Homo sapiens: one gene and its partners. The protein of the gene in region 1 purifies or fractionates together with the protein of each later gene. This does not show direct contact. Each region holds a gene or a part of one and is shown in the gene's direction. Other genes may lie near its edges.

Region 1 (4,276 bases):
TTGTGCTGAAGGAGGGACTGAAACCCAGTGATGGGCATGACGTGCCCAAGGTCAGGCAGTGAGAGGCAGACTTGATAGCACCAGATGTGGCTAACACTGCATCAGGTAAGGCTCCGAGCACTTGATTCGCTGATTTAGTCCTCACAGCAGTCCTAAGATTTGGTATTATTATCCTCATTTTATAGACAGGAAAACTGAAACACAGGGAGATGAATTTGCTTCCTGTACACAACTCAGGAGTGGCAGAGCCAGGATTCCAGTCCAGGCAGTTTGGCTTCAGGGTCTTCACAGAGCTTCCCAGGGCCCACCCTTCACCAGTGGGGCACGTGGCTGGCCCAGAGCAAGCCCCTCAGCCCCAGGCTGAGGTTTTGAGCACCTGCTTGGCACTAGGGTTTCTCTGCTACCGTGTGGCCTCTTCTTGTGGCCATGGTTAACGGAGGGGACAGGATTGCCCTGGGTGGACCCCAGGGAACCGTGGGGCCAGGGCCCTCTCCTCCCACCCACCAGCCTGCACACCCTCCCCAGGTCCTGTATCACCTCTTTGAGGAGTTTGCCAACTACGAACACGTGGGCATCGTGGACATCTTCCTCGGCTTCCTGAGCTTCTTCGTGGTGGCCCTGGGCGGGGTGCTTGTGGGCGTGGTCTACGGGGTCATCGCAGCCTTCACCTCCCGATTTACCTCCCACATCCGGGTCATCGAGCCGCTCTTCGTCTTCCTCTACAGCTACATGGCCTACTTGTCAGCCGAGCTCTTCCACCTGTCAGGCATCATGGCGTGAGTCTGCGTGCAGCAGGCAGTGGGCTTGGCGGGGTGGGGGCGGGGGCTGCCAGCTTGGATTCCCCAGGCTCGTAGGTTCACGGAGCTCCCAGGGCCCAGCCTTGAGCTCCAGGGATGAGACATGAACTCCAGGCTCCAGACCTGCTTGGTAGCCATTTAAATGGCCAAGGGCATCAGTGGCTTCCTAGAAGAGGAGCACTTCTGCAGCGCCCCCTGGGGTCCAGGAATCGGGAGAGGGCATTTCAGGCTATGAGCAGATGAAGCAAGAATGACCTGCATGAAGGCAAGCCCAGGGTATAGGAGAGCAGAGCCTTGGAAGCCACTAAGCTTCAGGTTGAGGAAAGCCACAGCCCTGCTACTTCATTGTCTCAAAGGGAGTCCCCTCAGCAGCCCCAGTAGGAGGCTCACCAGGCCTGAGTCCTGGCGGTCCTGAGGTCTCCACCGGGTCTGGAAATGGGGAGAATGGGATGTGGGGAGGCAGTGAGGGGTGAAGGTGTTCCAGTGCCGAGCAAGGCAGAACTGGGGTTCAGAGCCCCTGGCTCCCAGGAGCAGAGCCCGGGTGTGAGCACTGGGCTGGGAGGACTCCGAGCTCCAAGCAGCTGCTTGGAACAAAGCTCCCTGTGGAGACCCCTGTGTAATGGCAGATGCCACGCTTGAGGGGAATGAACCCAGGAGACCATGGGTCTGTGTCATTGACTCCTATTGGGTCAAGAGGCAGTGTGGCCTTGGGGCAAAGGTGCAGGCTTTGGAGTTGGACACTGTGGTTTGTGTGTCTTGGCTTTGCTGCCTGCAGGCAGCGTGACAGGGGAGAGGTGACTATTTCTCTTAGAGTCAGATCTCTCATTTTTTTATTTGAGACGGGGTCCCACTCTTGTCACCCAGGCTGGAATGCAGTGGCACGATCTCAGCTCATTGCAGCCTCTGAGTTCGAGATTCTCCCACTTCAACCTCTCAATTAGGTGGGATTACAGGTGCCCACCACCACACCTGGCTAATTTTTGTATTTTTAGAAGAGACTGCATTTCACTACATTGGCCAAGCTGGTCTCGAATACCTGGCCTCAAGTGATCCGCCTTTGTCGGCCTCCCAAAGTGCTGGGATTACAGGCGTGAGCCACCGTGCCCAGCCAAGATCACTCATTTTAAAAATGGAGGAATAGGGCCGGGCATGCGCTCGTCGCCTGTAATCCCAGCACTTTGGGAGGCCAAGGCGGGTGGATTACAAGGTCAGGAGTTCAAGACCAGCCTGGCCAAGATGGTGAAACCCCGTCTCTACTAAAAATACAAAAAAATTAGCCAGGCGTGGTGGCGGGCACCTGTATTCCCAGCCACTCGGGAGGCTGAGGCAGAGAATTGCTTGAACCCGGGAGGCGGAGGTTGCAGTGAGCCAAGATCGCGCCACTGCTCTCCAGCCTGGGTGACAGAGTGAGACTCGTCTCAAAAAAAAAAAAAAAAAAAAAAATGGAGGAATACACCGTGTCTATAGGGTTGATGTGAGGATGAGTGGCAAGAGGGTGTAAAGCACACAGCGGGCCCCTGGCCCATAGAGGAGCTTGGGACATGGGCACCTTGGTCGTGGCCCCATTGCCCCTGGCAGTGGAGGGGCTCGAGCAGGTGCAGCTCGACACGGAGCCCTGACCCCGCTCTTTCCTGCTCCAGGCTCATAGCCTCAGGAGTGGTGATGCGCCCCTATGTGGAGGCCAACATCTCCCACAAGTCCCACACCACCATCAAATACTTCCTGAAGATGTGGAGCAGCGTCAGCGAGACCCTCATCTTCATCTTCCTCGGCGTCTCCACGGTGGCCGGCTCCCACCACTGGAACTGGACCTTCGTCATCAGCACCCTGCTCTTCTGCCTCATCGCCCGCGTGCTGGGTGAGGGCCAGGGCTGGGGCGGGGTGGGGGTTGTGGTGTGGGGTGTGTGTGGGGGGTGGTGGGCTGTGGTGCTGTGTGTGTGGTGTGTGCAGTGCACTATGTGGAAGGGCCAGGCTATGTGGTGTGTGCATGTGGTGCAGTGTATAAGTATTGTGTGGAGGGGCTGGGCTGTGGTGTGTGTGTGTATGCGTATTGCGTGTGTGGTGTGTGTAGTGCATTGTAGGGGGGCTGGATGTGTGTATGGTGTGTGTGTAGTGTGTGGAGGGGTTGGGGGTGTGTGTGTGTAGTATGTTGTGTGGAGGGCTTTGTATATATGTGTGTGTTGTGTGGAGGGATTGGGCTGTGGTGCAGTGTGTGTATAGTTGTGTGGAGGGGCTGGGTGTATATGTGGAAGGGCTGGGTGTGTGTGTAGGGGTTGGGTGTGTGTAGAGGGGCTGGGTGTGTGTGTGTGTGTGTGGAGGGGCTGTGAGGGTGTGGGTGTGTGTGGAGGGGCTGTGAGGGTGTGGGTGTGTGTGTGTAGAGGGCCTGGGTGTGTGTGTGTGTGTGTGGAGGGGCTGGGGGTATATGTGTGATGCAGTTTGTGGTGGAGGTTTCCTGGTTGGCTCCTGCCTGCTCCCAGCACAGCTAGACAGGAGGGACTTCCCATTTCCATGATGGGCCCTTCAGCAGGGAGAAGCCTGTGTCACAGCAAGGCTGTGGTCTCTGGGGACAGAGTCAGGCTGTGTCAAAGTGAGGGGGCCCTGAGACTCTGAGCCTGTGGCTGTGGCTGTCCTGATGAGGGGCCTGAGGCCCACAGAACCCAGGTCTGTGACTCTGAGCTGAGTGCTCTCTGCACTGTCTCAAGACAGGTGACGTGAGCATGTGCCGAATCGCATGCAGAGCCACGTGCAGTCCTCCAAACCTATGCAGCAGGCCGGGGCACACGTGGGGACCAGGCCCCAGGTGCATGGGTTCCACTCACATGTGCCCCACATGCCTCACCCCAGTGCCTCAGTCGCCTCCTCCCTGGATCTCTCACTTCCTCTCTGAGGGTTAGGTCCATGTCCCCAAGCCTGGCAGGACCTCACATTTATTTGGTGCACTTTTGAAATCCCCTTTATTCCTGAGCCTCATCCTCCAGGGATTCTGGTTCTGTGGGTGGAGGTTGGGCCCAGCCCTCTGCATTTTTTATGCTTTATTATGGAAAATTTCAAGTACTTAGAAAAGTAGAGAGAATAGGATCATGACCCCCCACACACCCATCACATTTAACAAGTATTGACCTGTGACCCATCTTGTTTGATCTTTTCTCCCTCTTCCTGCCCCCAGCCCTCCAGCCACTGGAGGCCTCCATGATGTCTCTAAAGCACATCCAGGTTGGGGAAGTCCTTTAAGGATCCACCCAGCTCTTGGATTGAGGAGTTCAGAGCACTCTGGGCTGAGGGACCCAGGAATTGAGTGAGCGGGGTGGGCTTCGTAATGGAGACTTCCTGGATGCACAGAGAAATCACTGATGCAGAATCCAGGAGGGACTGGGGACAGCCCGACCTGACCCTCATCACCCCCTGCCTTCCCCTGCAGGGGTGCTGGGCCTGACCTGGTTCATCAACAAGTTCCGTATCGTGAAGCTGACCCCCAAGGA
Region 2 (4,276 bases), on another chromosome or scaffold:
CATCAGAAAAATGCAAATCAAACCTACAATGAGATATCATCTCACTCCAGTTCAAATGGTTTTTCTCCAAAAGACAGGCAGTAACAAATGCTGGTGAGGATGTAGAGAAAAGGGAACCTTCATATACTGTTGGTGTGAATTAGTACAATCACTATGGAGAACAGATTGGCGGTTCCTCAAAAAACTGAAAATAGAGCTAGCATATGATCCTGCAATCCCACTGCTAGATATATACCCAAAAGAAAGGAATTAAGTATATCGAAGACATATCTGCACCCCCATGTTTATTGCAGCACTATTCACAATAGCTGGGATTTGGAAGCAGCCTAAGGTTCCATCAGCTGATGAATGGAAAAAGAAAACAGTACATATACAAAATGGAGTACTATTCAGCCATAAATAAGAATGAGATCCTGTCATTTGCAACAACAGTGATGGAACCGGAGATCGTTTTGTTAAGTGGCATAAGCCAGGCACAGAAAGACAAACTTTGCATGTTCTTATTTGTGGGAGGTAGAAATTAAAACAGTTAAACTCGTGGAGATGGAGATTAGAATGATGGTTATCAGAGGCTGGGAAAAGTAGTGGAGTGAGTTGGGGGAGGAGGAGATGGTTAATGGATACAAAAAATATTGGCAAAGGGTGAGTAAGACCTAGTATTTGCTAGCACAATAGGATGACTACAGTAAAAAGTAGTTTAATTACACATTTTCAAATAACTAAAATAATTGGATTGTTTGTAACACAAAGGATAAATGCTTGAGGTGATGGATACCTCATTTACCTTGATATGATTATTATGCATTGTATGCTTGTATGAAAATATCTCATATACTCCATAAATATATATACATACTCTATCCACAAAAATTAAAAATAAAAAAATAGTAACAAAGTTTTTCTAAATTTAATAGTGTTTTAGAAATTAAAAGAGACCCAAGAATAAAAGGAAAGGTGAACTAAGAGAGATATAGGTTAAAAAGAAATATAAGAGAAATAAGCTATGTAAGAGATACAGGCCGGGCGCGGTGGCTCATACCTGTAATCCAACACTTTGGGAGGCTGAGGTGGGTGGATCACCTGAGGTCAGGAGTTCGAGACCAGCCTAGCCAACATGGTGAAACCCTGTCTCTACTAAAAGTAGAAGAATTAGCCAGGCATGGTGGTGGGCGCCTGTAATCCCAGCTATTTGGGAGGCTCAGGCAGGAGAATCACTTGAACCTGGGAAGCAGAGGTTACAGTGAGCCGAGATCACGCCACTGCACTCCAGCCTGGGCAACAAGAGTGAAACTCTGTCTCGAAAAAAAAAAAGAGATACATATAGAAGAAATAAGGGAAATAGGCCGGGTGTGGTGGATCATGCCTGTAATCCCAGCACTTTGGGAGGCCGAGGCGGGCGCATCACGAGGTCAGGAGATCGAGACCATCCTGGCTAACATGGTGAAACCCCATCTCTACTAAAAATACAAAAAATTAGCTGGGGGTGGTGGCGGGCGTCTGTAGTCCCAGATACTTGGGAGGCTGAGGCAGGAGAATCGCTTGAACCCGGGAGGCGGTGTCAGTGAGCCCAGATTGCACCCCTGTACTCCAGCCTCGGTTGACAGAGTGAGACTCCATCTCAAAAAAAAAAAAAAAAAAAAAAGTGAAATATAGGCCAAAAGCAGAACCAACAGTAGGGAAGAGCAGACGGTGGTTTACAGGGCCACGACCACCGATGGCTCTGGAAGTGCAGGTAGTGCAGGCAGCACCCTGAGACTGGAAGGGCAGGTGGAGGGAAAGGGGAAAGGTGAGTGATGGAGTGGAGCCCGCCTATTGGAGAGCTTCAAGGGCACCACTTGCCACTGTCTGGCAGGGCAAGTGACAGTGTAAACAGGGCAGTCAGGGGTTCACGTGGCTTTGCCTTTTGCTGCTGGCACCTGTTCAGGTGGGCTCTTCGGAGTTGATGAGGTGGTGATTGAGCAGCTAGGATGCAGTGTGGCAGGCTTGTCCTGTCACATACCAGAGAAGATGGTGGCGGGAGGTGGCGCTTGCAGAACTCTTAGGAGCACTGAGGAAGAAGGTGGAGGAACACCCAGCCTTCTGGCTTGAGTGCCTCCTGTGTGTCGTAGAAGGATCTAGATCCTGTGGGGGCACATGGAACAACAGGAAAAACTTGCAAGACCTGTGGGACCAGTACATGGTCATCTGGTATCACATGTGAAGCTGGGGCTGCGCATGGGCCATACTTCTCATCTTCTGGAGTAGAGTTAGACAAGGAAACCCAACTCAGGATCGCGTTAGTACTCTTGTCTGCTCTAATCGCGGGTTGAGCTGATGTCTTCATCCTTTGTTGGTTGCTGTTAAGGAATGAGGATGCGTTTATGGTGGAAAGAGTGTGGGGCTGAGAATCTGGAGGCCAGGGTCAAGTTCTGACTCTGCATTTATTATCTGTGTGACTTGCTGCAAGTGTAACCTGTCTGAGTGTCTGCGTCCTTATTTGTAATTTGGAGGCTATAATAGTGATGTCTGCCTCACAGAAGCCCTAGGTTGTCGTGGGGATCAGTGTGGGTATGTGAGAGTGTTTCATAAATTGCAAAGCTCTGCCGTAGCTGATTATACCTCTGGACTTCTAAGTGCTTTGAGGAAAGTGTACCTGGTTATTCCTTATACTTCTCACAGTGCCTCCAGAGTGTCAGTGATACTCAAGAAATGCTAGTTGAGTGTGAGTTTACTGCAGCACAGAGCAGTTTCCGGGTTCCATTTTCCAGTGGCCAGACCCTCTCCTTGTTCACACTGTTGGATGAGGGAGGTAGAGCTGGAGCATCGGACTGGCCTATGGAACAGATGCAGTGGCCACCAGGAGGTGGCGATGCCTGGAGCAGTGTTAGCCATGCAATGTGATGAGGATCACACACTCTCACGTGGTTTCCAGTCGCTGGGCACAGAGCTACCTTCAGGGGGGCCCAGCTTCATGTTCAAAAGCAGGAAGCAGACTAGGGGCTGTTTCCATTTCCTGTCCTCCCACTTCTCTTCCACTGCACAGCCCGTACATGCATGCCTGCATGCCACCCCTCACACAGTGTCCCCATCTCCTTAGTGCGGCCTCAATTCTGACTCCTGGTTGTTTCTCGTTTCCTTAACTCTCCGTTGCTACCCCTAGCCCCATCCCCTGCTTGTGGACCCTGGAGAGGCACTGTCTGCCTCTGCCTCTGTGGGCCCAGGTGCTTGTTGGGTGTTGAGCTTGCAGTGAGAACTGGTTTGCTGAGCCTTGGTTTTTTTTGCACCTGCTGCAGGTCATCTTCCACGATGTTGCTGTGCTGACGGATAAGCTCTTCCCCATCGTGGAGGCCATGCAGAAGCACTTCAGTGCTGGCTTGGGAACCTACTACAGTGACTCCATCTTCTTCCTCTCGGTCGCCATGCATCAGATCATGCCCAAAGGTAACCTGGGCTTCCAGGAGCAATAGCCCCTGGGTGTCTGACTTTTGCATCCATTTCCCTGGTTCCAACACTGCCCAGGCCCTGTATCAGGGAGAATAGCTCCACTGAACATGAAAGAGTGGACGAGGGAGCCAGACCAAGCCCTTTGTACCACCGAGCTTCCTACACCAAGAATCAAGGGCAGGGCCTTGGTTGCATAGCTCCCGGGGTCCATTTATGAGGACACAGGGGGTCTCTGGGCTCTGGTCTGGACTCTGCCCCTTGCACTCGCCCCCTTCTTTCCCCACTGCTCAACCCCCATACTTTGTTTGCTCATCTGAAAAATGGTGGGTTGGATTAGATGATCCTCCATCCAAATTTATGCTCTTGTTCTTTCTAGTTTGAATCTGTATTTATCTGATTTTAAAATAGCAAATCTAGATGTGAGAGGTGCAAATTACGACCATGTAGAACTTCTGAAGAAACTCTGATGCGCAATTAGAAGGATTTTCTGGGCGTCTGTCTCCAGGAAAGAGAGATGCATCATCCAGTGTGTGATAGGTCCAGCTTATGTGGAATTTCTGGCAGGTCTGGTCATGCTTGGACTGGAAGCCTTGGAGGGTCTAACTCCTAGAGTGTGTCTGGTTTCTAGGATCTCCCTACAGTGATCCTTAATGGGTTCTGGAGCCCTGGATATTGACCAGTGTATTAATCTGTTCTCACGCTGTTCATAAAGACATACCTGAGACTGGGTGATTTATAAAGGAAAGAGGTTTAATAGACAGTTCAGCATGGCTGGGGAGGCCTCAGGAAACTTACAGTCATGGAAGGGGAAGCAAATACGTCCTTCTTCACATGCCGACACCAAGGAGAAGTG
Region 3 (4,276 bases), on another chromosome or scaffold:
CAGGCCTGTCCTCCAACAGGCTTGAAGTTTGAATTTATACAAACAACATAGTTCAAGAAGCACACAGCCAAAATGTGTGTGCCAGGACACTCGGGGACATTCCGGAGGCAGGGAGCTGGGTGCTCAGGGGTGGCCAGGACACGATGACACCTGCCTTTGCACGGACACAGTGTGTGGCTGGCAGGGGGCACCCCAACCCCAGTTTCCAGCAGGAAGCTGAGAACCATGAAGAGATCAAAGAGATCAACTAGAAAAAATATCTTGAAGCCAGTGAGCTCAGTGATAACAGTCTCCAACCATCTTTAAAAGAGAGCGGGTCGGCCAGGTGTGGTGGCTCACATCTGTAATCCCAGCACTTTGGGAGGCCGAAGTGGGTGGATCACGAGATCAGGAGTTCGAGACAAGCCTGGCCAACATGGTGAAACCCTGTCTCCACTAAAAATACAAAAATTAGCGCAGTAGTGGGCACCTGTAATCCCAGCTACTCAGGAGGCTGAGGCAGGAGAATCGCTTAAACCCGGGAGACAGAGGTTGCAGTGAGCCGAGATCGTACCACTGCACTCCAGCCTGGGCGACAGAGTGAGACTCCATCTCAAAAAAAAAAAAAAAACAAAAAAAAACGAGAGAGTTGATGGTGCCCTTCACTACTTCCCAAGCATCCTAGAGTCCCACGGGCTGCCCCGCCCACGGGCAGTGGCTGCGGAGTGTCTGCTCTATCAGGCATGGTGATTTCCTGCCAGCCTGTGCCTTTGACATTCCCACCAGAGGCAGAACCTTCTGCAGGTGGCCCTGGCCAGGCTCCTCTCTCCTCCCAGCTCCTCATTAGCCTCCTTTGCCAGGCTAGGAAACCGAGGTATGCGAGGTTAAGGAACTTTCCTTGGGCCGTGCAGCTGAGAGTGCGCTTTGCAGGGATTTGCATCCAGGCCGCGGGACTCACACAGGCCACACCTGCCACCCCCACTGCCTCTGGCTCGTGGGAGGTGTGGGATGTGGCGGGTGGCCGGGGCAGTGCTGGGCAGGCAGGTGTTGGTATTCACAACGTTGCTTTCTTGACCGATTATTTTCCTGGGAGACTTCCTCAGTCAAAGGGTTGATATGCTTGCGAGCTCTCGATGCACGCTATCAGATTCTCCAAAAACGTACAGCCAGCTTCGCCTGCACCTGCAGCTTCTGTGATTTGTGCTCTTAATTGACGTGGCGCTTTTTTTAGGTTGAGTCGTTTTTCATTGCCAACAATCTTCTCCTGCATTGAAATAATAGCTTGTAAAGAAGCCTCACGCTTCCTTTTTCTCTGTTGACTCTTCTAGGACGCGCTCCAGGAGATATATAATCAGAAGGGCATGTTTCCAGGGGAGCAGTTTAAGCCTGCCCGGAGGCCGTGGACCCTCCTGAACTTCCTGTCCTGGGCCACCATTCTCCTGTCTCCCCTCTTCAGTTTTGTCTTGGGCGTCTTTGCCAGCGGATCACCTCTCCTGATCCTGACTTTCTTGGGGTTTGTGGGAGCAGGTAATGGACACTGTCGCTAACAGCTCACACTCTGACGGGCCTCACAGTATCAGCCACAGGGTCCGGGACCTGGTGACTCATCACAGTGGCTGTGGGAGGCAGGGGCCTGGCTGTTATGGACCCTGGAGCCAGGATCCCCCCACGGCCTGCGGGCCTCAGAGCCTGGATTCTTGCACTGAGCTGAGGGTCGCCTCCCCAGAGAGCCGAACGGCCGCCACCTGGCGCCATCCCCACTGCAGCCCCACTGGCTGGCGCCCTTGAGGATGCCGACGAGAGGGTCCCCGAGAGGGTCCCCAGCCCCCCTGTCTGCTTTTGGGCTCTTAGGGGTCAGGCTGGGCTGGCCATTCGGGAGGTTTAAGCAGGACATCATCATTCAGCTCCTCCCCATTGACCCCCAGTGACTTCCCCACTGTGTGCCCACCCCAGGCACAATGCCAGGCCCACCACGACTCATCAGCTAGCCTGGGGCCGAACAGACACCCAGCCTGTCCCTGTGGTGAGCTCCGGCGCCCACCCACACCCCGTAATTGAGGGGTCTCTGTCCGTGGAGACACAGTCCGTGTGCATCGCCCCGTGAGCCGACTCCCCAGGCCCAGCAGCTGGGCCAGCTCCTCCCCTGCTCCTGCCGCCCCTGCCAGGGGCCTTGGTGGGAGGGGTCCTGAGAGGCAGTGACTGCCACCAGCCTCTCCCATTGGACTACGAGATGACTTGAGGCCACCCACAGAGGACAGGATGTGACCTGCTTACATCCGAGGGTCCTGCTCGTCCACCTCTGTCACCTGTTGGGTTTGCAAGGCCGAGCTGTTAGAATGCCCCGAAGCCCTTCTGCTCCCACCAGCCAAAGACCCAGAGGGGCAGGCAGGGCAAGGTCCACGTGTCCACCTGCCTCGGACCCAGCCGGTCAGAAGACGTGCCCCTCACCCCTGCCTGAGCAGACCACGGTCTGAGAGGGCTGTCTCCCCGCGGGCCACACCTACTCACTGACAGCAGAGGCCACTGGGTGCGGGGCAGAGGGACAGGGTCTGGGGCAGAGGAAGGAAGCCCCAGTAACACGTTTTACAGCAAAAAGGCAAAGTCATCCGTCTCACCTCTTCTCTCTCTCTCCTGTCTTGAAAGCTTCCTTTGGAGTTCGCAGACTGATAGGAGTAACTGAGATAGAAAAAGGCTCCAGCTACGGAAACCAAGAGTTTAAGAAAAAGGAATAATTAATGGCTGTGACTGAACACACGCGGCCCTGACGGTGGTATCCAGTTAACTCAAAACCAACACACAGAGTGCAGGAAAAGACAATTAGAAACTATTTTTCTTATTAACTGGTGACTAATATTAACAAAACTTGAGCCAAGAGTAAAGAATTCAGAAGGCCTGTCAGGTGAAGTCTTCAGCCTCCCACAGCGCAGGGTCCCAGCATCTCCACGCGCGCCCGTGGGAGGTGGGTCCGGCCGGAGAGGCCTCCCGCGGACGCCGTCTCTCCAGAACTCCGCTTCCAAGAGGGAGCCTTTGGCTGCTTTCTCTCCTTAAACTTAGATCAAATTTTTTGGTTTTTAATCAGTTATCTTGGGAACTTAACCTGGCCCCTCACCTCTTCTGCACCCCCCGCCCCCGAAACTGTCTCGTAATGAATTTCTGCTGTCCTCCTGGGAGTGGACGGCCGGGTCCCGTCCCCCGGGAGCATCGCTCGGCTCAGCACCTTGGCTCCCAGTGGGGGCCCCGTGGAGGGCGCCCGTAGTGATAAGCACACCGGCACGAACGTCAGGTCCATTCCTCGAAGTCGGAGCCCTCACTCTGCCCTGTCCTGGGGCTGGCTGAGGGCGAACGCCCCACCTCACTTTCTAGAGCCCTGTCTGTCCTAGCTCCTATCTGACCTTGTGTGTAAATACGTACATCTGTTTTTAAAGTGGATGGGCCCCTGAGAACTCAGTGAAATGCAGAGTTCTCCATGCACCTAAAGCTCCTTTGTCGCTCTCATGGCTGTCAGATCCTGGTCCCTCCACACTGGGTGCTGGGGAGGGAGGACCCTCGGGGCTACCGCGCGCCCCCCCATCCCACAGATCAGGAGCCAAGGAGGGAGAACAGGGCAGCCTGTGGGACTCTAGGATGCTTCAGAAGAAGCGACGGCACCGTCAACCCTCTGTTTTTTAAAGGTGGTTGGAGACTGTTAACACTGAGCTCATTGACTTCTAGAGATTTTATTTTTACTGGTTGATCTCTTGGTGGTTTTCAACTTCCTGCTGGAAACTAGAGGTGGGGCACCCCCCACCCCCCAGCCTCGCACTGTGTCCTTGGGGAAGGCCCGCCCCCATCCTGGCCGGTGTCACTGTGGCCCGGCCACCCCTGAGCGCCCAGCTCCCTACCTCCTGGACGTCTCTGAGAGTCCAGGCAGAGCAGAGGGCAGCGCTCGGCCGGTCATGCTGGCTCCCTTGGCCTTGCAGCGAGCCCCTGGCCCACGCCGAGCGAGGGATGCTTCTCCCTACAGCATGTCCACTCCCCCGGCATGGCCAGGTGGGGCCCCTGGGGCAATGGCAGTGGTAGAACGCTCAACTTGGTTGCGGTACCATCAGCCCACCTGCATTTGGCTTTCGACTTGCTTGTTCTAAGTCACAGCGCCCTCATCTTTTTAGCAAGGTAAAAAAACCAAAATGGGTGTTATCTCTGATATCTTGAAACCAGCGTTCTGAATAGAGGTAGGTTGAGTTTTCTAGGGGAAAACAAATGGAGAAAAGAGGCATGAAGAAAAGTAAACCGAGAACATAATTAGGCATCGGGCCTA
Region 4 (3,601 bases), on another chromosome or scaffold:
GTGGACAGAACTTGTGCAAATTGTCAGAGTTCTAGTCCCTAATTTTATGTATTTTGGGAACTCCTGCCTTATTTATCCTGCAGTCACAGACTTGAGAGCAATAAATGCAAACCTAAATGAGAAAATGGAATCCCTGACAGCTGTGTCCGTATCAAGCATCAGTCTCTCAAACAGTTGCCCCAGCCTGACAGTGCTAGTCTCTGTTTAATGGTAAAAGGAGACTTTGCCATAATTTTCAGATGAAGATGTTTCCCAAACACTGTTTACAGAATGAGATGTGACTCTACAGATACCTCATAGAAGACAATCCAAGATCATACTTCATTAACTTGACAGAGTACGTGTCTTAAAGGAAGCATCAAGAATTCAATATTTGCATTTAAAAATACTTTTTAAGGCCATTTTATATTAAGCCAGTGCTGGAAAACTGAATTTTTTTTATTATGTATAATAATCTCGACACCCAGCTTCTGGAATTGCTGCTTTCTTTTTACAGAAATTACTACCCAACAGATTTCAGGAAGTACTAGTAGTTATCCCAAAAGTGGAATAAGCATGTATTCCTAAGTGTTTCAGAAATGTTTTATTTCACACATAAGTCTTAATGTTATTGTTATGATTATACTTTATAAACAACCTTTTCCAGATGCTACAGGGTTTTGAATCTCAAAGTTAACATTTTTCATTATTTGTAATCTTAGAACCAAATCTTTATTTATTGTGGTCACTGTTATTAAATGATTTAGGAAATACTTTCAATATTATTCTGAATGGCTGAAGTTAGTCTTAAACTCAAATTACTATATGATGATTTAAAACAAAATAAAAGAGCGAGGATGGGGGTTGGAGTTTCAGGTTTATGTCTTCCCGACATCACTTTTATCATTCATGAAATTGTCTTAAAAAAGCAAGAGACTGCAAAATGTAAACAGTAATCTTCTGTCCCTTTAAGAACTGCCAACAATTTGTACAAAAAATGTGGTACGTTGGTTCCTGCCTCCACTCCAGGTCATCTGTGTGTTTAGCCTTTCAGGGTAAACTCTAGAGGGTTCAGTTTATAATTCCCACCTTTCACATATAGTTCAACAACATTAATCCAGAGAGAATTTTATGTTTTATGATATGGGTTATGTTTTATTATATATTTTATGTTTTATGATATGGGTTAGGGATTCTCCATGGACTCCAGAAACCCTAAAATACAATTTTGAGGTTTTCCAATAATACCATAGCAGAAATGTCCAAGGGGTTGGGGGAAGATATTACTTTGAGAAAACAGAAATGTAAAGGATTTTTGACCTTATATATGTGTGTGGTTTTGTTTTTGTTTTTGTTCTTGAGAGAGTCTCACTCTGTCACCCAGGCTGGAGTGCAGTGGCGTGACCTCTGCTCACTGTAACCTCTGCCTCCTGGGTTCAAGTGATTCTTCTGCCTCAGCCTCCCAACTAGCTGGGACTACAGGTACACCACACCCAGCTCATTTTTTTGTATTTTTAGTAGAGACAGGGTTTTGCCACATTGGCCTGTCTGGTCTTGAACTCCTGACCTCAGGTGATCCGCCTGCCTTGGCCTTCCAGAGTGCTGGGATTACAGCATGAGCCACCATGCCTGGCCTGTATGTGTGTGTTTTAAAGCACTAGATAGGGATGGACATTAAATCTGTGTTGCAGGGAAACTAAACAGAGGTTTCCAAACTGAAGGCAACCTAATTGTAAATGCCTGTGTTAAAGAGGCAGCTTGACTGTTCATGTTTCATTTTGCAACCATTGGTTTTGAGATTATCTTTTATGCACATTTGGAGTCCCTTTTCAACAGTGACAGTTTCTTACACGAAGAATGGATATGGTTATTGGGCTCCTCTAAGAATCAGAGTAGGGTAACAATGTACCAGGCAAATTGTAAGTTGAAATTCTAGATAAGCATGCAGATGACTTACAATATAAATGAAGAATAGGAAACATTTTATCTTCTTACCAAGTACCTTACTATAAGTAAACCTAAGATAAGAAAACCCAGATTTACCTATAAGATTGTTGGGAGTTAATGGTGTCAATAAAAGGATTGATGGTCCCTCTAATGAAACCCAGTAGATGTTTGTTGAATTGAACTGAAAATTTATGTGGCCAGACACAGTGGCTCATGCCTGTAATCTCAGCATTTGGGGAGGCAAAGGTGGAAGTATCCCTCGAGGCCAAGAGTTCATGACCAGCCTGGTCTTTTGTAGAGACCCTGTCTCTACAAAAATATAAAAATCAGCCAGGCGTCGTGCACACCTGTAGTATCAGCTACTTGTAAGGCTGTGGCAGAAGTGCTTTAGCCCAGGAGGTTGAGGCTGCAGTGAGCCATGTCCACACCATTGCACTGCAGCCTGAGTAACAAAATGAGACCCTATCTCAAAAACAAAAAGGAAAAGAAAATATACATGATGGGATTCCTATTGTGAAGTCATTTAAAATAATGACTTGAATTTCTCAGAAATTTCAGGAGCATATAAACTATTTAAATCAAAATATTCTTACATATAGAAACCAAGTAAGAATAAATGAGAGATATTTCAGTGGACATCTGGACATATTTATGGACTTTGAGTATCTAGCAAGTAGAAAGGAAAAAAATATTCATCATACTCTAATCATTTTTTTATATCTATTGAGCTTGTTTCTTGTAAACTTTTCTTTATCTTATAAAGGCATATCTCGCTTTTGTATCGACCTGTTCCTTAAAAAATGTATTTGATAAAACAGGCTAAAATTCATTTGAGTATTGAAAAGAATTCTTTTTTTTTTTTTAAGATGGTGTCTCACTGTCACCCAGGCTGGAGTGCAGTGGCACAGTTGGGCTCACTGCAGCCTCTGCCTCCCAGGCTCAAGTGGTCCTCCCATCTCAGCCTCCCAAGTAGCTGGTACCACAGGCATGCACCACCACACCCAGCTAATTTTTTGTATTTTTGGTAGACACAGTGTTTCACCATGTTGCCCAGGCTGGTCTTGAACTCCTGAGCTCAAGTGATCTGCCCACCTCGGCCTCCCAAAGTGCTGGGCTTATGGGCATGAACCACTGTGCCCAGCCAAAAAGAATCCTTTTGTAAAATACAGAAACACTGCAAACCTTTGTAAATCTTTTTTTTTTTTTTTTTTTTTTTTTTTTAATGAGATGGGGTCTCCCTATGTTGCCCAGGCTGGTCTTGAGCTCCTGGGCTCAAGAAATCCTTCCACCTCGGGCTCCCAAAGTGCTGAGATTACAGGGTGTGAGCTACCGCACCCAGCCATGAAAACTTCTGTAAATCTTAACTATCGTGTTCTGCTTAAAGTGAGGTACACATAAAGTTTCCTGTGCTTTGTTTTTGTAGGAAAAAGTACATAGTTTGTATCTTTACCTTACGGAGTCTATGAGATTTGAGAATTTGATTTCACTTTTTGTAACTTAACCCACAGAAAAGGACATTAACTTAGCAGATAGGACCAAGGACTGAATGACTTCTGACAAAAAGCGTTTGGTCTATCCTTCACTTGTTGAGCTACAACCATGCATTACACTTCTCAGCTGAGCTCTCAAAGAGCTCTATGCCCTGTGAAAAGCAGTGGCTGAGTTGGATGAACAC
Region 5 (4,276 bases), 710 kb from region 1:
ATGCCTGTAATCCCGGCAAGTTGGAGGCTGAGGCAGGATGATTGCTTGAGCCCAGGAATTCAAGACAGCCTGGGCAGTGTAGCAAGACCTTACCTCTACAAAAAATAAAAAATTAACCGGGTGCTGTAACATGTACCTGTGGTCCCAGCTACTCAGGAGCCTGAGGCAGAAGATCACTTGAGCCCAGGAGATCAAGGCTGCAGTGAGCCATGATCGTGCCACTGCAATCCAGCCTGGGCAACAGAGCAAGACTCTGTCTCAAATAATAATAATAATCCTTCCTTCAAAGAAAAATTACTAGCCGGGCGCGGTGGCTCATGCCTGTAATCCCAGCACTTTGGGAGGCTGAGGCGAGTGGCTCACCTGAGGTCTGGAGTTCAAGACCAGCCTGACCAACATGGTAAAACCCCGTGTCTACTAAAAACACAAAAAATTAGCCGGGTGTGGTGGTGCATGCCTGTAATTCCAGCTACTGGGGAGGCTGAGGCAGGAGAAGTGCTTGAACCTGGGAGGCGGAGGTTGCAGTGAGCAATTGCACTCCAGCCTGGCAACAGAGCGAGACTCTGTCTCAAAAAAAAAAAAAAAAATACAGTTGGCCCTCGATATATTTAGGTTTCACATCCTCAGACTCAAGCAACCGTGGAGTGAAAATATTTAAAAAAAACTAAAAAATAATACAACAATAAAAAATAATACAAATGTAAAAACCAATACAGTGTAACAGTATTTTATATAACACATTGTATTAGTTCAGTACATTACTAATACAATGTAAGTGCTATGTAAAATAGTAATGTAGTATAAAATAGTAATGTAACATTATATAAGTAATATAGAGATGATTTAGAATATAGGAGAGAATGGGCACAAGTTATATGCAAATACTATGCCATTTTATATCAGTGACTTAGAGGGAGGGAGTCCTGGAACCAATCCCCCACGGATACCAAGGGACGAATGTACCGTTATAGCAAAGTGGAGTGAGACATATGGAGCTAAGGAAAGAAATGTAATGGATGCCAGGGTATAATGGATCATTTCATATTCAACAGAGGAAAGTCCAAATTCCTTAGCCTAGGTTCAATTTTCGTATCTAGTAATTTCCAAACTCTGACATACACATTCTATGTTATGGCAAAGCTAGGTTATTTGCTCTTTAACTGAGTTGCCTTTCTGTTCATATGACCTCTCCTTTGCTTTAAGGCACAACTCATGTCTTACCTCTTCTGCAGAGTCTTCCTTTTCTCCACACCTTTCTATACCATTAATTCAGCCATTTCCTATATAGTACTCTTCCTTCTTATTTATTTTATTGTGCACTTATTCCCCACGTCCACCCCAGTTAGCTGTATTCACAGCAACTAGCAGACTACCCCAACTATGGTAGACTCTTAGCAAGTGATTGAAATGCTGACAAGACTTGCTTTAGCAGATAGTCCACTATAGTAGACTCTTAGCAAGTGATTGAAATGCTTGCCAGGTTATGATTCCAATAACCCTTCAAACCTGGAAGGGAATTGCCCTCAAATTTCCATAGGGTCATGCCCCATATGAGCACCCCTTTAATAAGACAGGTTTCCATTGTCTTTCTTCTGCCTGATCATGAGTCAGAAAAACTCAAATATAGGCCAGACGTGGTGGTTCACACCTGTAATCCCAGCACTTTGGGAGGCCGAGGCAGGCGGATCAGTTGAGGTCAGGAATTCGAGACCAGCCTGGCCAATGTGGTGAAACTCTGTCTCTACTAAAAATACAAAAATTAGGGCCGGGCACAGTACAAGCTCACGCCTGTAATCCCAGCACTTTGGGAGGCCAAAGTGGGTGGATCACCTGAGGTCAGGAGTTCGAGACCAGCCTGACCAACATGGTGAAACCCCATCTCTACTAAATATAAAGAATTAGCCAGGCATGGTGGTACATCCTGTAATCCCAGGTACCTGGGAGGCTGAGGCAGGAGAATTGCTTGAACCCAGGAGGCGGAAGTTGCAGTGAGCCGAGATTGCACCATTGCACTCCAGCCTAGCAACAAGAGTGAAACTCTACCTCAGAAAAAAAAAATAGCCGGGCGTGGTGGTGCACGACTGTAATCCCATCTACTGGGGAGGATGAGGCAGGAGAATCACTCAAACCCAGGGGATGGAGGTTGCAGGGAGTTGAGATTGTGCCACTGCACTCCAGCCTGGATGACAGAGCAAGACTCTGTCTCAAAAAAAACAAGTAATAAATAAAAATAAATAAAAAGAAAGAAGGGACGGAGGCTGGGCGCGGTGGATCATGCCTGTAATCCCAGCATTTTGGGAGGCCGAGGCAGGCGGATCAGGAAGGAAGGGAGGGAGGGAGGGATAGAGAGAGAAGGGAGGGAGGGAGGGAGGCCAGGCACAGTGACTCATGCCTGTAATCCCAGCACTTTGGGAGGCCAAGGCAGTGGATCACGATGTCAGGAGTTCAAGACCAGCCTGGCCAACATGGTGAAACCCCGTCTCTACTAAAAATAAAAAATTATCCGGGCGTGGTGGCATGGGCCTGTAATCCCAGCTACTCAGGAGGCTGAGGCAGGTGAATTGCTTGAATCCGGGAGGTGGAGGTTGCAGTGAGACGAGATTGTGCCACTGCACTCCAGCCTGGGTGACAGAGCAAGACTCTGTCTCAAAAAAAAAAGAAAGAGAAAGGAAGGAAAGAGAGAGGAGAAAGAAGGAAGGGAGGGAGGGAAAAAAGGAAGGAAGGGGAGGGAGGAAGGAAAGGAAAGGGAAGGGAGAGAGAGAGAAGGAAGGAAAGAGAGGGAGGGAGGAAGGAAGGAAGGAAAGAAGGAAGGAAAGAAAAGGAAGAAAAAAGAAAGGGAGGGAGAGAAGGAGGGAGGGAGGGAGAAAGACCCAAATATAGGGGATTTTGCCAATGTTAAATTCTTCCACTGCTGTTAGGAAAACAAGCTGCAGTTCAGCCCACTGAGCTGATTTGTGTTTACCTTCTTTGATCAGAGCAGTAAATAGGTTGTAGTCCATTCACTTTGGAACTGCTATCCACAGACCATCAGCTTTTTGTCAGTCAGTTGGGAGTTACCATAGGGCATTGTCCAGTGATGACAGAATCCAGCAACTCCTCACACAGTTCCAGAGTCAATCCCAGGGGAAAAGAGGCTCCTTACTTGTAGCTCCTCCTTGCATTCCTCAGATAGCATGATCTTGTATAAACATTTAAATTCTGTAGTCCAAAGTCCCAGTGGTTGTCATCGGGAGGCACTCAACAGGCTTTTGTCACAAGGCCTAGCAGTCTCCACATAGGGCTATCACACCAAGAATTTGTCTATATCAGCACTCCAGCCTTCTGCTGTACTGTTTGGACTTGGGCGCTCTTACTGGTTCTCATGTAGCATGTCCCATTAATGTTGCTTGAAGAGTGAGTTTATGTGCCTTCTGTTTTACAATATTGGGTAGGCAGCAATAGATTATTTTCTGTTTATGGAGAAAGCATGCTTTGTAGAGCCTTAAAAACACACGTGTTAATAGCTAAAACTTTAGGTACGTGAGGGAAACAAATCTTCTAACATGTTGCTTAATGTTAGTTAATTGTTTTTTGTCTTCCTTAGGCTGACATTTTGGATGTCAATCAGATATTTAAAGATTTGGCCATGATGATCCATGACCAGGGTGATCTGATTGGTATGTATTATTGATACCTTTAACCTCAAGGTGAGTTGATAGTATTTGGCATGCATCTGTAATCCCAGCTACTCAGAAGGCTGAGGCTGAAGCACCATCTAGGAGTTTGAAGCCAACCTGGGCAACATAATGAGAATTTGTCTCTTAAAAAAGAAAGAAAGAAAGAAAAAGGAGTTAGGCTAGGCGTGGTGGCTCAGGCCTGTAATCCCAGCACTTTGGGAAGCCCAAGCGGGCAGATCATGAGGTCAGGAGATGGAGACCATCCTGGCTCACACGGTGAAACCCGTCTCTACTAAAAATACAAAAAATTAGCTACGCCTGGTGGCATGCACCTGTAGTCCCAGCTACTCGGGAGGCTGAGGCAGGAGAATCCCTTGAACCCAGGAGGTGGAGGTTGCAGTGAGCCGAGATTGCGCCACTGTATTCCAGCCTGGGTGACAGAATGAGACTTCGTCTCAATTAAAAAAAAAAAAAAAATGGAGTTAGTCATATCAGCTATAGAGTTAAAGTATGTTTAGGAATGCCGTTTTAAAAATTACCAAATTTATTTTTCGTAGCAATTTTTTTATGTTATCAAATGTAGAAGTTAAATGAGGCCTCATGAATACTCAGTCCCATTG
Region 6 (4,102 bases), on another chromosome or scaffold:
GGCCAGGCGGGGGGCTGACCCCCCCACCTCCCTCCCGGACGGGGTGGCTGGCCGGGCTGAGGGGCTCCTCACTTCCCAGTAGGGGCGGCCGGGCAGAGGCGCCCCTCACCTCCCGGACGGGGCGGCTGGCCGGGCGGGGGGCCGACCCCCCCACCTCCCTCCCGGATGGGGTGGCTGGCCGGGCTGAGGGGCTCCTCACTTCTCAGTAGGGGCGGCCGGGCAGAGGTGCCCCTCACCTCCCGGACGGGGCGGCTGGCCGGGCGGGGGGGCTGACCCCCCCCACCTCCCTCCCGGACGGGGCGGCTGGCCGGGCGGGGGGCTGACCCCCCCATCTCCCTCCCGGACGGGGTGGCTGGCCGGGCTGAGGGGCTCCTCACTTCCCAGTAGGGGCGACCGGGCAGAGACGCTCCTCACCTCCCAGACGGGGTCTCGGCCGGGCAGAGGCGCTCCTCACATCCCAGATGGGGCGGCGGGGCAGAGGCGCTCCCCACATCTCAGACGATGGGCGGCCGGGCAGAGACGCTCCTCACTTCCTAGATGTGATGGCGGCTGGGAAGAGGCGCTCCTCACTTCCTAGATGGGATGGCGGCCGGGCGGAGACGCTCCTCACTTTCCAGACTGGGCAGCCAGGCAGAGGGGCTCCTCACATCCCAGACGATGGGCGGCCAGGCAGAGACACTCCTCACTTCCCAGACGGGGTGGCGGCCGGGCAGAGGCTGCAATCTCGGCACTTTGGGAGGCCAAGGCAGGCGGCTGCTCCTTGCCCTCGGGCCCCGCGGGGCCCGTCCGCTCCTCCAGCCGCTGCCTCCCGGGCGGCGCTCGCCGGCCTATACGCCACACTTCTTATCGCCCTCCTTGTCTGCAATTTATTTAAGAAACTGGGTGATTTAACCCGTGAATTTTTTTACAGTTTGGATTCCAATGATTGCATAATCAAAAGGTAGTTTAACATGTTTCTTGATTCTCTGTGGTTTCTTTAAAGTAGTTATTGGTCTAAGATGCTTAAACTTTTAATACATTGACTTTAGACAGCTTCAACTCCATTTGCAATAGCTACTATGTGACCTCTGAATTTTTGGTAGGCAAGAGGTAAAGCAATTGCAGCCCAGAACATCATGTGGAGCCAGGAAATGCTGCTAGGAGAGAGGGTGGCTAAGCTGACAGAGTTGAGGGCAGTTTTCCTGGATCAGTTTAGAGGCCATGTGCAAAACAGAAACCTTGCAGCAGGAGGGAATGACTTATCAAAGGGAAGTGGTATCTGGAAGTGTCTAGGAATGGACAGAAGTCAGTACTTAACACAGGTTGACTGGGAAAATGCTGGGAAGTAAATAGAGAAAGGCAAGTATACCCTGGGTTCCTTCAAAGCAGTTCAGGAAAATATTCTCTAAATGATGGTGGTTACATGCAACGTAAATGAGTTGATCAGGAATGCTCCAGGTCCACCAGCATGTTAAACTTTTAATGGTTGAGACGTTATATAATATTTTCTGGTAATTCAAAGTCTTAGCAAAACTTTGTGGTAAGGATATTTGTCCCATATTTCAGATAACTCTAAGAATGCTAGGAAAGGGGAATATGTCAACAAGAAATGTTACATGTATGGCTGGATGCTATTTTCTATTTTTTCCCTTTCCTTCAGTCAAGCATGTGGCCTGGTTTATGCTTCCTTACCTCACAGATATTTCAGAAAGCGGAAGTATCAGACAGTAATCCCTATTTATGTTCTCAAAAGCCAAGCCCATAGGAGATTTATTAATAAAAGATTTGTAAATAAGTAAAAAAGGAAAAGAGAGCTTTTAATAGGTGGCTGAAAGGGTTAGAAAAAAAAATGAAGGAAGAAAGGAATTTCTCCAATGGTCTACATACCTTTCCCGCGCAAAATGGAGGAACAGAAAAGATCCTGGGGGTCTAAGACTTGGGCCAGAAGTTCTGGAAGTGCCTTGAAGAGTCTATAATATTTTAAAAAGGGATACATGCATGGTGTGGCTAGGGACTTAGGGGCTAGGCATGGGGTTCCCAACCTTAGGACATTTCCTAAGCGTGTTACGGAAGCAGTCTGGGGATCTGAAAGAACTGTAGGAGTGGGGGACAGTAAATATCTTACCAGGGACTTTCTCTGTGCATGCAACATCTGAAACCCCTCTCCCCAACCAAACCTCAATGCCTTGGCCCTAAATAATCCTCCAGAGACTTGGGGGTGTGGTTGGGGTTAGAGAAAGTCTCAAGCATGAGAAGTGAGAAGCTTAGAAGCAGCAATTAGGTTGACACATGTTCTCACTTATAACCGGGAGCTAAATATTGAATAACACATGAACACAAAGAAGGGAGCAATAGATACCAGAGCCTACATGAGGGTAGAGGGTGAGTGGAGGGTGAGATTTGAAAAACTACCTTTTGGGTACTATGCTTATTACCTAGGTGGTGAAATAAGCTGTACACCAAACCCTGCAACACACAGTTTACCCATGAAACAAATCTGCACTTGTACCCTCAAAACCTAAAATAAAAGTTGGAAAGAAAAAAAAGAAAGAACAAAATTAAGTTGACTTATTTTTAATAGGCTTTTATTACACATCAGAGTTTGTGGGATGAAATCTGTCTCCATTACCCAATGCAAAAATCACTGGGAAAATTAGTATAACAAATGACCGCAAACACTTACATAGTACTTACTATGTATTAGGCGTTGTTCTCAGCTTCTACGTGTATTAACACATTTGATCTTCACACTACTTACTTTAGAGAAAGATGTCATTATTCCTGATTTAAAGAGGAGGAAATTGAAGCAGGCTAACGTTAAAGAACATGCTTAGGATTACACTGCAGCTGACAAGTGGCAGGGTCAGCATTCAGAGTCCATGTGGGTAGTCACCACTCCAAGCTTTCTCTCCAAAACCGCTGACTCAGGCACACTTTTTAGGTTAAAGTAAATCAGGACTTATGAAGTGAAATGTCAGTTTTCTAATGGAGGAACCAGATCCAAAATATAAAACCCTCTTTAAGATAATTTTTAAGATGAGCAGGTGCCAGCTGACTCCTCCTTCTTGATAATGCTTAGGTGCTTTGGAAACTCTTCCTGGATGAGAAAGAGATTCTTGTCCCTCTTCATCTGCTGCAAAGGACAAAGCCCCAGAAGAATAATATGCCAAAGTCGGCCTTAACATCTATCATCCCTATAACCTCATCTCCCTGGTGCTCTGACCTTCACTGGGATGGTATAAAGCAGAGGCTCTAGAGTATCCCTGGAAATGAGGAGCAGCGTACACTAACCAGTTTGGTTTAGAGTAATTCTCTCCTATTTGTAATTTTTATGAAAAACAATTTAAATATGGCCTTGGACTCATGATATTTTTTATGTCACAATAAAGTGGAAATTTAAAGTTACAAATCCCCAAAAAGGTCCTCCATCAACTCCTCATAGGATGTATCCATTTTTAGCTCTGATTATTGCAGTTAACTTTCCAAAGTGCTGGGATTACAGGTGTGAGCCACCACGCCAGCATATTTACTGTGAAAGTTTAAAATCTGATTTGAAAGCTGCTTATTATAAGCAATATAATTTTTTCTTTAACGGCCCCAGAATGTTTAATGTTACATAATATGAATATATATTTTCAAATGTAAAAAAAAGCCTTTTTATATATAAACATGTATAAAAGAATAAATATAAATAAGAAATTAATTGGGGTGGCAAAGTACATTTAAAATTTTGTGATGTTTTTGTCAAAAACGATTTGAACAAATTTATAGGAAAAAAACAAACAACCCCATCAAAAAGTGGGCGAAGGATATGAACAGCCACTTCTCAAAAGAAAACATTTATGCAACCAACAAACATATGAAAAAAAGCTCATCATCACTGTCATTAGAGAAATGCAAATCAAAACCACAATGAGATACCATTTCACGCCAGTTAGAATGGTGATCATTAAAAAGCCATCATTCTGAGCAAACTATCGCAAGGACAGAAAACCAGACACCACATGTTCTCACTCATAGGTGGGAATTGAACAATGAGAACACCTGGACACAGGGCAGGGAACACCACACACCCGGGCCTGTCGTGGGGTCGGGGGACGGGGGAGTGATAGCATTAGGAGAA
Region 7 (4,276 bases), on another chromosome or scaffold:
GTTAAAAAGAAAACCCTGCTTATTTAAAAGTAATTTTTTTCCTGATGGTCTAGAGCATAATTAATGGGACAGATAAACTTCTTCCCTAAGACCTAAGGGGCTTAGTGAAGGTGAGATAATAAAAATGTATTCGTTTATTATTTATTTATTTAATCAGAAGCTCCTTTTTCTTGGGAGAGGAAATCAGTAGAGGCTACACAGATATATAACAGTAATTTAATTTCTTTTGAGTGGTGCTGTTAGAGTTTGGGGTATTTTTTAAGAAAATCATTAAAGATTAGTATTATTTGGTTCAAACTGTTAAAGCAGAAACATTTTCTTTATTAAGAATAACTAATGTCCAAGAACACATTTTGATGCATATTGTGGCCAGCTAAGGGCTCCAAGAGAAGCAGCATCGAGGGGAAAAGCAGACTGGGGAGCAGGGAAGGAGTGGGAGACTCAGGGCTGGCCATGGGAATAGGCTTAGAGGAAGAGAGAGAAAGAAGTAGAGGGTGAAGGTGCTAAAATATTATTCAGTTTGCTTTGCATATGTCCCATAGGTGAAAATGTGAAATTATTTTTTCTCTGAGTAGAAATCAGTTTGTTTGGGGACAGTATGGCATAGTCAGTAAGAGTCTGGGTTCTAGAATCAGACCTACAGGAACCTAATATCAATTATGCGATCTACTTACTTCATGTGGTTTTTGGAGGATTGCATATAAAGTTCCAGGCATGTAGTACTCAATAATTATTAGCTGCCTCTGTTGTGGTTGCCGATGATGATGATGATCAAATAGGGGACCTTTCTTGGCTCACAGAGCCTTCCTATGCAAGGTATCAGGACAGCTAGCACTAAATTCAGAGTTGATAGCAACTTAAATAGCTGTGTGATCCTTGGCATCTCCCAGCACCAACTTTATTATCTGTAAAATGAGCATAATGATGTCTTTCTTACCAGCTTGTTGGGAAAAATCTCATGAGAAAATATATGTGAAAGTGACATAAATTTTATATAAAGTACTATGCAAGTATAAAGCATTTTAATGTATTTTCTCTTACATTTTCATAAGTCATTTAATTCTTCCTCAAGCCATATCCGTCTTAAAAAATTTTTTTTCTCACCTCTTTTTAAGTCCCAAACTTCACTGTCTACCAGCGTGGTTCATATATGTGAGAATAATCCTAGAAAGGCACCTCTGTAGCAGAAAAGGCAAGCACACGTCACAATTTATTTCATAAGATAGGAAGTGCCCCTAACTTCCAGACAGTCTTCTGCATGCTCAAAAGTTCCCTCCAGATGTCTAGAAAAATCTCTTCCGGGCTGATCGCGATGTCTCACGCTTGTAATCCCAGCACTTTGGGAGGCCAAGGCAGGTGGATCACCTGAAGGTCAGGAGTTTGAGACCAGCGTGGCCAACGTGGGGAAACCTCATCTCTACTTAAAATATAAAAAATTAGCCCGGCGTGATGGTGGGCCCCTGTAATCCCAGCTACTCGGGAGGCTGAGGCAGGAGAATCACTTGAACCCAGGAGGCGGTGGTTGCAGTGAACCGAGATCGCGCCATTGCACTCCAGCCTGGGCAACAAGAGGGAAACTTCGTCTCAAAAAAAAAGAAAAAGAAAAAGAAAAATCTTCTCCAACCTCTTCATCCACATTTGTCAGTCACTCACTTTACTTCAAGACCAGTTGAGTTGCCACTTCCTAATGGAAGCCTATTGTAACACCTAGTCTGAATTACTATAATTTCCTGCTCTGGGCTCATGTTGCCCTTTGAAGATATATATTATAGTACTTTTCGTATTTTATTGTAGTGTTTTCGTTTTTACATCTGTCTTCTTTAGCCAGCAAACACTATCATCTTGGTTTTTCTGTGTGTGACTGACAGATAGCATCATAAATACTCATATATTTGGTTGGTTTCTTTTTTTATTTCGTGAATCAGTCAATCATTTAATGTAAACTTGCCCCCTTTATTTTACATCTGAGCAGATATAGGCTAAGGAGCCTAACTGAGTTGCCCAGTATTAGACAAGTAAATCACAGGCAGAGTCAGGACTAGAATACAGTACTCAGGTTTTAGATTTGATGTTCTTTTAGGATGGTTGATGAATGGTCTGTTCCTAAAATATCAACATGCTGAAGGGCTTGGCACTATCATTATGGGTGAGCACAAAGATATTATTGCTATCTGAAACTTAAGGAATGTAAAATATCTTTTAAAGTATTACTTATAATGAAATGAATATGAAATTTTCCTATTAGCAGTGCCCTTTTAAGGAATAAATGCTATTATTTTTCTCTGTTGATGCTTCTGTAAACCTCCTCTTAGGGCAATTGGTCAGTTTAATTACTTTTTGTTACAGATGACATTTACTGTGTAGGTCGCTATTTCTAAATACTTTAAGTTATAATGTGGAATCCTCATGTATATTAATTTTTTTCTTGCTCTCTCCAGGTTTCATTGCTTCAGACATGACATCAAGACACTCCAGTACCCAGCTGTGGTTAATTACACATTATCATGAAATGGGATCGTTGTACGACTATCTTCAGCTTACTACTCTGGATACAGTTAGCTGCCTTCGAATAGTGCTGTCCATAGCTAGTGGTCTTGCACATTTGCACATAGAGATATTTGGGACCCAAGGGAAACCAGCCATTGCCCATCGAGATTTAAAGAGCAAAAATATTCTGGTTAAGAAGAATGGACAGTGTTGCATAGCAGATTTGGGTAAATTTCTAAAAATATTTTTTTCCTCACCAGTTTTATTTTTGTTTCAATGGTTAGGTGAGTTGCATCTCTCCCCCACAACATGTTATGCAAAATTTCAAACATGCAGAAAAGTTGAACATTTACAATGAACACCTTTATACCCACCACATAGATTCTCACATTAACATTTTACTATCCTTAAGCATTATTATGTATTTATTCATCTATTCATCTCCCCATCCATCAGTCCATATCAACCTTTGATAGAGTTGAAAGTAAATTGCAGACAAAGGAATTCTTTCTTCTGATGATTTCAGCATGTACACTAGTATATCATTGACAAGAATGCATTATTTGCTTTTTCTTTTTTTCAGGTAAAATTTATATACTGTGAGATATACAAATCTTAAGAGTTTTGACAAATGTTGTAAAACCCAAATCCCTGTCGAGATACAGAGTTTCCCATTACTCTTGACAGTTACCTCAGGCTCATTCAGTCAGTCCCTGCCACACCCCACCTCAGAAGTAACCAGTACTGTTGCATTTTGGTTTCACTAACCTTCACATAAAGTAGGTGCACAATAAATACTCTATAGAATTAGTTTATCTTAAAAGTGGTCTCTAAAATCATTCTGTAACCAAGGCAAAAGAATCAAGTTAAGAAATAGGAAAATAATCCCCGAACTGATTCACTCTTTTCCCTGTTAGGATAGCTCATTCTTATGGTGTTAGAGTAGTACTCAGTGTAGCTTTAGTTGCATTATAAATAAGAGTATTTTCATTTATAGTGGCATTTTATATAAAACCATGTTCTTCCTGGATTCCTAGAATATTGGCTAAATAATTGTGCTAATGAGAATTCAGGGCCCTCTACTTGATTAAACATGGTTTATATGATATTTATATTATTGCAATTATTGTTAGCCTGATAAAGGTTTAGACAAAAATAGCTTTAGTTATGTAAATAACAAAGTTTATTTTTGTTTGTTTTTAAACATAAGGGATTTGACATGTTAGGAAAATTTATTTCCTTTGAATCCCTTTAAAGTCTTTGCTTTTACATTGAGAAATTACAATGTTTCCCAAGTAGGAGACGAAAGATTTTAGGATAAGCATTGAAAGAGCATGGCCCTAAAGTTTTTTGCAGGCATTTTTAGTTGTGGTGTAGAGGACTTTTATGGCTTATTCCATGGCTCTTAGAGCCAGGGCGATTTGGGTTTAAATTCTGGCTTTCTCAATTACCCTGTATTTTTGTGCAAGTCTATTTATCTATTTACCTGGCCCAAGTGCTGACACTGCTTTCACTCAGTGAGACAGGGACAGTGAGGGCGAAGGCGGATGGGGTTGGGAGTTAGCCAAGAGGAACTCCAGGGCTTGACGCTGTGCCCTGTACTTCTGCGTTGTTAGAAACTTGCATAACAGTGTGATCGTGGCCGGGCGCGGTGGCTCACGCTTGTAATCCCAGCACTTTGGGAGGCCGAGGCGGAAGGATCACTTGAGGTCAGGAGTTCAAGATGAGCCTGGCGAACGTGATGAAACCCCATCTCTACTAAAAATACAAAAAAAAAAAAAAAAGAAAA

What was found.
Region 2: the proteins of SLC9A1 (region 1) and XXYLT1 purify together in Homo sapiens (co-immunoprecipitation; one large-scale study listed by IntAct). This does not show direct contact.
Region 3: the proteins of SLC9A1 (region 1) and AGPAT3 purify together in Homo sapiens (co-immunoprecipitation; one large-scale study listed by IntAct). This does not show direct contact.
Region 4: the proteins of SLC9A1 (region 1) and SLC30A4 purify together in Homo sapiens (co-immunoprecipitation; one large-scale study listed by IntAct). This does not show direct contact.
Region 5: the proteins of SLC9A1 (region 1) and STX12 purify together in Homo sapiens (co-immunoprecipitation; one large-scale study listed by IntAct). This does not show direct contact.
Region 6: the proteins of SLC9A1 (region 1) and HTR1E purify together in Homo sapiens (co-immunoprecipitation; one large-scale study listed by IntAct). This does not show direct contact.
Region 7: the proteins of SLC9A1 (region 1) and ACVR1 purify together in Homo sapiens (co-immunoprecipitation; one large-scale study listed by IntAct). This does not show direct contact.

Annotation. Positions count from the first base shown.
Region 1 is NC_000001.11:27,106,027-27,110,302, reverse strand, and holds part of SLC9A1 (sodium/hydrogen exchanger 1), read left to right. Parts: intron 1-525; coding exon 526-776; intron 777-2,437; coding exon 2,438-2,655; intron 2,656-4,215; coding exon 4,216-4,276. UniProt on the Homo sapiens protein: Electroneutral Na(+) /H(+) antiporter that extrudes Na(+) in exchange for external protons driven by the inward sodium ion chemical gradient, protecting cells from acidification that occurs from metabolism.
Region 2 is NC_000003.12:195,225,853-195,230,128, reverse strand, and holds part of XXYLT1 (xyloside xylosyltransferase 1), read left to right. Parts: intron 1-3,272; coding exon 3,273-3,420; intron 3,421-4,276. UniProt on the Homo sapiens protein: Alpha-1,3-xylosyltransferase, which elongates the O-linked xylose-glucose disaccharide attached to EGF-like repeats in the extracellular domain of target proteins by catalyzing the addition of the second xylose.
Region 3 is NC_000021.9:43,979,682-43,983,957, forward strand, and holds part of AGPAT3 (1-acyl-sn-glycerol-3-phosphate acyltransferase gamma), read left to right. Parts: intron 1-1,307; coding exon 1,308-1,506; intron 1,507-2,622; coding exon 2,623-2,711; 3' UTR 2,712-4,276. UniProt on the Homo sapiens protein: Converts 1-acyl-sn-glycerol-3-phosphate (lysophosphatidic acid or LPA) into 1,2-diacyl-sn-glycerol-3-phosphate (phosphatidic acid or PA) by incorporating an acyl moiety at the sn-2 position of the glycerol backbone.
Region 4 is NC_000015.10:45,481,604-45,485,204, reverse strand, and holds part of SLC30A4 (probable proton-coupled zinc antiporter SLC30A4), read left to right. Parts: coding exon 1-42; 3' UTR 43-3,601. UniProt on the Homo sapiens protein: Probable proton-coupled zinc ion antiporter mediating zinc import from cytoplasm potentially into the endocytic compartment. Controls zinc deposition in milk.
Region 5 is NC_000001.11:27,814,268-27,818,543, forward strand, and holds part of STX12 (syntaxin-12), read left to right. Parts: intron 1-3,583; coding exon 3,584-3,656; intron 3,657-4,276. UniProt on the Homo sapiens protein: SNARE promoting fusion of transport vesicles with target membranes. Together with SNARE STX6, promotes movement of vesicles from endosomes to the cell membrane, and may therefore function in the endocytic recycling pathway.
Region 6 is NC_000006.12:87,010,046-87,014,147, forward strand, and holds part of HTR1E (5-hydroxytryptamine receptor 1E), read left to right. Parts: intron 1-4,102. UniProt on the Homo sapiens protein: G-protein coupled receptor for 5-hydroxytryptamine (serotonin). Also functions as a receptor for various alkaloids and psychoactive substances.
Region 7 is NC_000002.12:157,764,359-157,768,634, reverse strand, and holds part of ACVR1 (activin receptor type-1 precursor), read left to right. Parts: intron 1-2,438; coding exon 2,439-2,714; intron 2,715-4,276. UniProt on the Homo sapiens protein: Bone morphogenetic protein (BMP) type I receptor that is involved in a wide variety of biological processes, including bone, heart, cartilage, nervous, and reproductive system development and regulation.